Linked DNA regions of Homo sapiens. The protein of the gene in region 2 interacts with the protein of the main gene of each other region in a biochemical or structural test. Each region holds a gene or a part of one and is shown on either strand. Other genes may lie near its edges.

Evidence for each region. Proteins that work in one complex are often made in the same cells at the same time.
Region 1: the proteins of PRKCB (region 2) and ZMYND8 form a complex in vitro, tested with the Homo sapiens proteins (one study listed by BioGRID).

The regions. Positions count from the first base shown.
Region 1 is NC_000020.11:47,245,200-47,248,699, reverse strand, and holds part of ZMYND8 (MYND-type zinc finger-containing chromatin reader ZMYND8), read left to right. Parts: intron 1-2,182; coding exon 2,183-2,692; intron 2,693-3,500. UniProt on the Homo sapiens protein: Chromatin reader that recognizes dual histone modifications such as histone H3.1 dimethylated at 'Lys-36' and histone H4 acetylated at 'Lys-16' (H3.1K36me2-H4K16ac) and histone H3 methylated at 'Lys-4' and histone H4 acetylated at 'Lys-14' (H3K4me1-H3K14ac).
Region 2 is NC_000016.10:24,216,983-24,221,111, reverse strand, and holds the end of PRKCB (protein kinase C beta type), read right to left. Parts: 3' UTR 1,152-4,129; coding exon of another isoform or gene 999-1,151; 3' UTR 501-998; downstream 1-500. UniProt on the Homo sapiens protein: Calcium-activated, phospholipid- and diacylglycerol (DAG)-dependent serine/threonine-protein kinase involved in various cellular processes such as regulation of the B-cell receptor (BCR) signalosome, oxidative stress-induced apoptosis, androgen receptor-dependent transcription regulation, insulin signaling and endothelial cells proliferation.

The DNA.
Region 1 (3,500 bases), on a different chromosome or scaffold from region 2:
GCAATGGTCCCTTTGTGTGGGGGTGTCCCTCCCAATCTAGACTGGAAGCTCCTTGAGGGCAGGGAGGCCGTTTTATGAGGATTTGCCTTCTCTATGGTACTTGGTCTGTGCACATGGTAGATGCTCTGGAATGTTTGTTGAATAAGTAAGTAAAGCTAGGAGGGCATTTGTAAAGAAGTGGGGGATGGCTGGGCCTCTGGAGAGCAAGCTCCTCTGAGTGTCAGTGGGTGCTCTGCATCTTCAGGTGAGAAAGCAGCTAGAGTTAGGGACCCATCTGGGGCTATCCAGAGGACAACAGCTCCCGTTGGGTTGCCTGTTTGGTGAGGACATTGGGTGGCATGGGTGAAATTTGGCATGCCATTTAAATAATCCTCTTGGGTCCTTCCATGCAGCTGGCCCAACTCTTGATTTGTTTTTATTGCTAATAAGAATTTTATTATTTCCATTTACTGAGTGTTTCCTTGGACACTATGCTAAGCACTGCATATAGATTGTCTTGGGAGGTTGATACTTTTATCAGTCCCATTTTGCGGATAGAGAAACTGAGGCTCAGAGAGATAAATAACTTGTTCAGGGTCACACCAGTAATAAAAACAGAAAAGCAGGATTTGAATTCATGTCCTTTGGACTGCAGTACCCAAGCTTTTCCTATCACATATGTGCTTACACTTTTCCTTCTTGTTTCCAATCATTACCTACCAGTAGCACAAGCCTAGGATCCCAGAATTATACCAGATCTGGGTGTTTGTATTTTGGCTTGTGTTCTTCCTGTGTTGCCCTGGCTAGCCTTGAACTCCTGGGTTCAAGCAGTTCTTCTGCCTCAGCCTCCTGAGTAGCTGGGACCACAGGTGTGCACCACCATGCCTGGCTCGACTTGTGTTTTTGATTGAGCCCTGGTGGAGGCAGATACATTCCCCAATGATCCAGCTGATCCCCCATGCCCCGGGCTGTTCATGGCTCTGGTATTTTTGCAGGTTTCTTTTTGGTGTATACAAGTCGGACAGTGGCACCATTCACAGTGGCCATTGCTCTAGAATGAAGAGATTGCACAGACTTGATTGGGTTTTCTTTCCTCTTTCTAAAAGTTTAGGATATGGTATTATTATCTACAGTATGATGGCATAACATATGGTTGGGGGCAGGAGCCGTAAATGGGTTAAATGGAACTATTGTTAGAAATGTGCTTCTGCCCATTTTTGTTTGTGTGTATGAAACACCTGCTAGTTTGTGCTTCTTCCTTTTGAAAGAGACAGAAGTATGTGACTTCTCTCTTGACTCCTTTACCAGTGGAAGAGCAATGCACACCGAGTGGCAGTTGACTTTCCACGAGTGCAGGGAACAAGAGGGAGGGCTGGGCACCCGGGTCACCTGGAGACAAGTGTGTCCCCCGCCTAGAGGAGCCAGTGGCTTTCCTGTTCCAGCCAATGCCTGGCAGGCTGGTGACCCAGAGCGGCTAGATTTTCCGCTCTTTCATCAGAAGCCCCTGCTTTGATTTCTATATGAAATTTCCTGATTTGTGAGTTGGACAACACATTTATAAATTAAAAGCAGACAAGATACCCTGTGGGCCAAACCAGTGCCTCTCGCATGAAACATGTCTGCAAGCTAGATGTGGCTTGTGGGCTGTTTGCAACCTCTGCTTTAAGGCTTTGGCTTATTTTCTTTGGCCTAGACACAAAGGATCAAGAACTTTAACCCTTTGGAAACCCAAGGGAAGAGTGTTGGTGGGGAGCCAGGAACCCGGGGTTCTGGCCTGGCCTCTGTCTTGTGTCCTAGGGCAGGTGATATCCCTGGGCCTCTGTTTTCTAATCTGTAAATTGGATCAGTTTGAACAGCTTGTCCCTGCTGTTCCCTTCCAGCCCTCTTCATTCTCAATAATCCCAATTAGTTATCAACGTTGCAAAAATTTGGCACCACATGTTTAGTGCCATATAAATTTAAAATCTCCGTTGGTAGGTCCTGTGTCTCCTAACAACCAAAACCCTCTCCCAAGGCAAGTACCACTTGGCAGCCGTAGCCAGTTGCCACTTGAGATTATTACTGGCCCCATTTAGGCCAATGTGATGCGATTTGAAACGTGCTTTTCTTATTCCAGCATTTGGTGTGGAAAAATGTTTGCATTTTTCATCCTGCTCTTTATTTTGTGACTACGCCACATGCTGGGTTTTCTTTTTGAATTTAGGCATAAATGAAATCTCGGAAGATGTCTATACGGCCGTAGAGCACAGCGATTCGGAGGATTCTGAGAAGTCAGATAGTAGCGATAGTGAGTATATCAGTGATGATGAGCAGAAGTCTAAGAACGAGCCAGAAGACACAGAGGACAAAGAAGGTTGTCAGATGGACAAAGAGCCATCTGCTGTTAAAAAAAAGCCCAAGCCTACAAACCCAGTGGAGATTAAAGAGGAGCTGAAAAGCACGTCACCAGCCAGCGAGAAGGCAGACCCTGGAGCAGTCAAGGACAAGGCCAGCCCTGAGCCTGAGAAGGACTTTTCCGAAAAGGCAAAACCTTCACCTCACCCCATAAAGGATAAACTGAAGGGAAAAGATGAGACGGATTCCCCAACAGTCCATTTGGGCCTGGACTCTGATTCAGAGAGCGAACTTGTCATAGATTTAGGAGAAGACCATTCTGGGCGGGAGGGTCGAAAAAATAAGAAGGAACCCAAAGAACCATCTCCCAAACAGGATGGTAAGTGATTGTATCTGTTTCCAGTTTTCTTAATTTGGTTTAGAATCCTACCTCGTACACTTACTATCAAAAGTTATGTGACCCTTAAAGAAACAAATCAGAAGTTATGTGACCCTCTAACACACTGAGAGAGAGGCACAGTGAAGCTGTGTTTGGTTTAAGGTTGCCTAGCTAGTCATAGAACAGGACCTGGACTCAAACATGGGCCTGCCTACCTTTAACCTGCTCGGTATCCAGTATGATTGATTTTGAGTACAGAAAGAGAAGTCTGTTAGAAAATGATGGTTACTTTTAGTGACCAAGTCATTTTTAGTCTGAGCAGCTTCTTTTCCAATATGCTCATTTATTTCCCCAAAGTGTTTGTTAACATTTGGATCTTGTCAAATGGTCCTTCAGTGCTGCATTCCACAGACATCTCATTCTCTTTTGACAAGTCTCAAACGGTTAGGAGTGTTCATTTCAAGCTGGGCATGGTGGCTCACGCCTGTAATCCCAGCACTTGGGGAGGCCGAGGCGGGTGGATCATTTGAGGTCAGGAGTTCAAAACCAGCTTGACCTACATAGTGAAACCCTGTCTCTACTAAAATACAAAAATTAGCGGGGCGTGGTAGCAGGCGCCTGTAATCCCAGCTACTCGTGAGGCGGAGGCAGGATAATCGCTTGAACCCAGGAGGCGGAGGTTGCAGTGAGCTGAGATTGCGCCACTGCACTCCAGTGTGGGTGGCAGAGCAAGACTCCCTCTCTAAAAAAAAAGCAGTGTTCATTTCAAAGGTTTTGATGATTTCAGCTTTGCTTTCCTCCCCTCATG
Region 2 (4,129 bases):
TTACATATCTTGTGCTTGATACATAGCTTAATAAACACGAATCACATTGAGTGGGTGGCTGCACACATACCCTGATTAGGGGCACAAGAAAATATTAAGGTCCTCAAACCTGTGACTCACGAATGACAGAGGTTTCAACCTCAAGTGGCTATAGCAGCCAGGGAAGTGGATGGAGGGTATAAGACAATAGGGGGTGGTGGAGACTGTGGCAAAATGAGAACATACACTGCTTTTAAAGGAGAAGCATTTCTCAGTTCTGTAGAATTATTTCCATGTGGAAATACAGGCTCAGAGCTGCTAGTCTTTTGTTTCTTTTTTCAAGGGAATCTAAAAGTCCAGGAATTTATATAAAGTATCTTATTTTGTCATGTTCACAATGGTTTTGATTAAGTAAAATTCCATGTGAGTAAAATTAAGCTTATCTAATGGCTACAAACTGGATCTTCAGTCTGTAACCTCTGTAACATAGTCTATTTAAGAAAAGACATATAAACAAGAGCTTGCATATATTAATTCAGTTTAATCATATCAATTCTTAAACAAAAAACTTCCTCCAAGAGACAATAGTTCACAGTAACTGCAAAGCTTACTCACAATTTTTAAAAATATCGCTCATGCTTAGCATTCAAAGAAGATATTATAGAATAACTGTAAAAACTTTTACCAGGAACATCAGCTTCTGACTTGAAAAATTACAAATACTGAAGCATTTTGGTATCAGACACAGTAGTTTTGACATTGTCTGTTCATTTGATGAGTTTCTGGAAGTTTGGAAAATTGTACCTCTATAATTGGATAATGCGCTTATTCTAAACTAAACATTTTCAAATGTAGAAAACAAACTAGCAAGCTACACATACAAAGAAAAGCCCTCTAAGACAAGCTTTCCACATGTTGAATGCCAGCATGTGCACCGTGAATCCTGGAAGACTAGAATTGATACATACGCTTGGCTTGAAGTCTTACACCCCAGGCTCAACGATGGAGTTTGCATTCACCTACACATTAATGACAAACTCTGGGTTAGTATAAGAGAAGCCAGCAAATTCATTTTGGTCCAAGTTCATGATGAAGAGTTTATCAGTGGGGGTCAGTTCCACAGGCTGTCTGGTGAACTCTTTGTCGAAGTTGGAGGTGTCTCTCTTGTCTCTCTGCCAAATGGAAAGTAAACACATTAACACAGCGTAAGAAGAAAGACACAGGACCAAGATACGCCAGTCATTGGGTGGCTGATACCATCTCATGAGCAGAGTCAGAAAGAGCCCTGTGCTGAAAATTTTTAGCAGCTGCACTCCACGCACTGGCTTTCATTTCACATTGTATGTTGGCTTGGGGATAGAAATGTGGTGGAAATTTTCTAAGAAAAGAAGTAAGTCATTGAATGTCAGTTAAGAATTGCCATAAAGTGGTGTGTGTGTGTGTGTGTGTGTGTGTGTGTGTGTGTGTGTGTGTGTGTTGCTGTATTTTCTTTGGCTTTAGGATGAATTGAATTGGAAGCTACTTATTACCATGCTTAATGTTATAGAAATAATCATTAGGTAGAGCGTCCTGGAGAAAACCATTCAGTAGCAGCCCAGGTGGCTAGAAGACCTCTTTCTCTGAAAAGGTGAACTGCTGCCCATCTACTCTGCCCCCAAGAAGGCAGAATGGCCATGTGGAGAAATCAGATCACTGCTTAATGAAAGGAATTGACCACCGTCAGCTCGAAAATCCACCCACAGTCTAGAATTGGGTGTTTATCAGGCAGAAGTTCTCTCCAAAGACATTTTTAGCATGTGTCAACAAACTATAAGAGAGAAAACCCAAAGCTTAAAGGAGGGTGTGTAAGGGGAGCCTTAAAACAAAACAAAACAAAACAAAACAAAAGAAACTCAAAGCAACTCGATTCTCCTAGTAAGTCTGGCATTTCTTTTTTTGTTCAGTAGGGAGGTGGAGAAGAAATTAACCCCCATTTACTAGCAATTGCTTGGGGCAAGTCTCACCAGGGAACATCAGAATGTGGGCTAATAAAGGAATCTGTATGATGCTCCGACCTCTTCAGGGTCCTTGCAAGCCTCTTGTCTTTCCTCATCATCACCACACCCACCTGGGGCAGGTGGAGCTGGAGTCCTCACCTCCTATATATGACATATGAGAGAACCGAGGCACAAGCAGGCAGGGTGGCTTGCCCAAGATTTCAGTGGGTTCCTGATTTTTACCTGACCACATCGCTGCTATGTAGGCCTCATCACAGTCTCTCGGACTGGAGGGACAACCCCATGGCTGTTTTATTACAAGACAACCAGGGAAGAAGGCCTTGTATTCCCTAGTGCCCTGCACATTCCCGGGCTGCAGCCAAAGTTGCCTCAGATTATAAAGGCCAGGGGGTCGGTAAGGATTCACTGACTCATTAGCGTTTGAGCCATCACCACCCAGGCTTTAGGTTTAGCCCCCTAATGGGCACTAGCTGTTAAGGATCTCTCATTGCTGGGTTCACTCTCCTTTGCAAAAGACCTTTTACAAGACTTGCTTCTTTGTGGCTGCTCCCCTGAGATAGGTAAAATGTCTCTATGGAGTTCCCTCCTTACTCTTGCCAAGTCTATGTGAGGGTGTGGGAGTGAGGTGGGCACACTGAACTCAGGAGCACACGTGGGTATGTGTGGCTAGAGTGGGGCAGGCTAAGATGCTGATGGAGCTGTTTCCTGGGTAGGGTCCATCTCTACCATGTCCCACCTGCCCTTTTTGTCTTGTCCTGCTTGCTGTTAGCCTGTGGGGTGCTATAGGAGTTTCCATCCCCCAGGCGCTCGGCATGTTACTTCCGGTGTTCACAACAAAGCTCGAATGCCTCCTCTTTAATATTGTCTGTGCATCTCTCTCCCAATCCCCACAAGTCACACTTTAGCATCCTTTAATTATCTTGATTGCACTTATTGCTTTCAGAAATTGTCTTGTTTATTTATTATTTCTCTCCAAGAAACAATATTCTTGGAGAATTTCTTGGAGAGAAACAATAAACAGGGTCCTCATCTGCTTCTTCACTAGTGTATTTCCAGTGCTAAGAATAGTGCCTGGCACACAGTAGGTTGTTTGTAATTATTTGTGGAATGAAGGAAGACTTGGGATATGCCTCTATCCTTTTTGCAACTTATAATTGTCCCCGAGCCAGAAACTTTACTCTGAGGCAAAACAATGGAATTGATTCCCATTGATCCTAAAGGTCTCCCAAATGGGCCACTGTCCCTTTTGAACCCCTGTATGAACTGAACTGTGTTAGGGCCCCTAAAGGTCTGAGAACTCCAGGACAGTGTGTGAGCTAAAAGGCAGGTATATTTGGAGCTAGAAGACACAAAGCTGCCTTTTTTTTAGGTCTCCCCTGGTCTCATCAACCCTATTTCGCTTTCCCTGCCTGTGGGCCTCTTATCAAAGATTCCCTTCTGACCAGCCCCACCTTGGAAAGCCCTGCCCCGTTTGTTGTGCTGGTGATGGCTAATGCTTCAGATAACCACATGGTCCAGACAGGACTTGCTTTTATGGACTTTGTCCTGTGGGCAGATCCCCAGAGAAAATACTCCTGGATTTTACCGTAGAAGTTGGGAGAGAATAAGCTTCTCTGTTGAGATCATTTCTTTGAGGTTGATAGCATCTGAAGCCATGTGAAAACAGTAGCACTCATCCAAGGAGGGTTATTAATTCTACTGACCTCCCATTAATCCCCCAAGAAGGTCCTTGTTGCTATGGCCCTGTCCTCTCTTCAAAAAGCTCTGTTTCTCAGTTTCTTCTGCACTGGAAATGTGGATAGAAAAGGAAGTGGTAGAAATTCTGACTTTCCATGGAAAGTTTCTCTAAAACAGACTTTGGCTTGAGTATCTATTTCTGCAAACTATTAAACTTTTGAAAAATAATGGCAAGAATTTGGAAAATGTTGAGTGCAGTATTTATAACACTATATTCCTTCCTTCCTTCCTTCTTTTCCTTCCTTCTTTCCTTCCTTCCTTTCTCTTTCTTTCTTTCCTTCTTTCTTTTTCTTCTTTCTTTCCTTTCTTTCTCTTTCCATTCATCCTACATTGTTTTCTAAAGTTGTCTCAGATCATTTGTCAATGGCCTAGTGTTTCTCCATGGTTTTTATCTTCCTGAGAGCATGTCCAAGCAA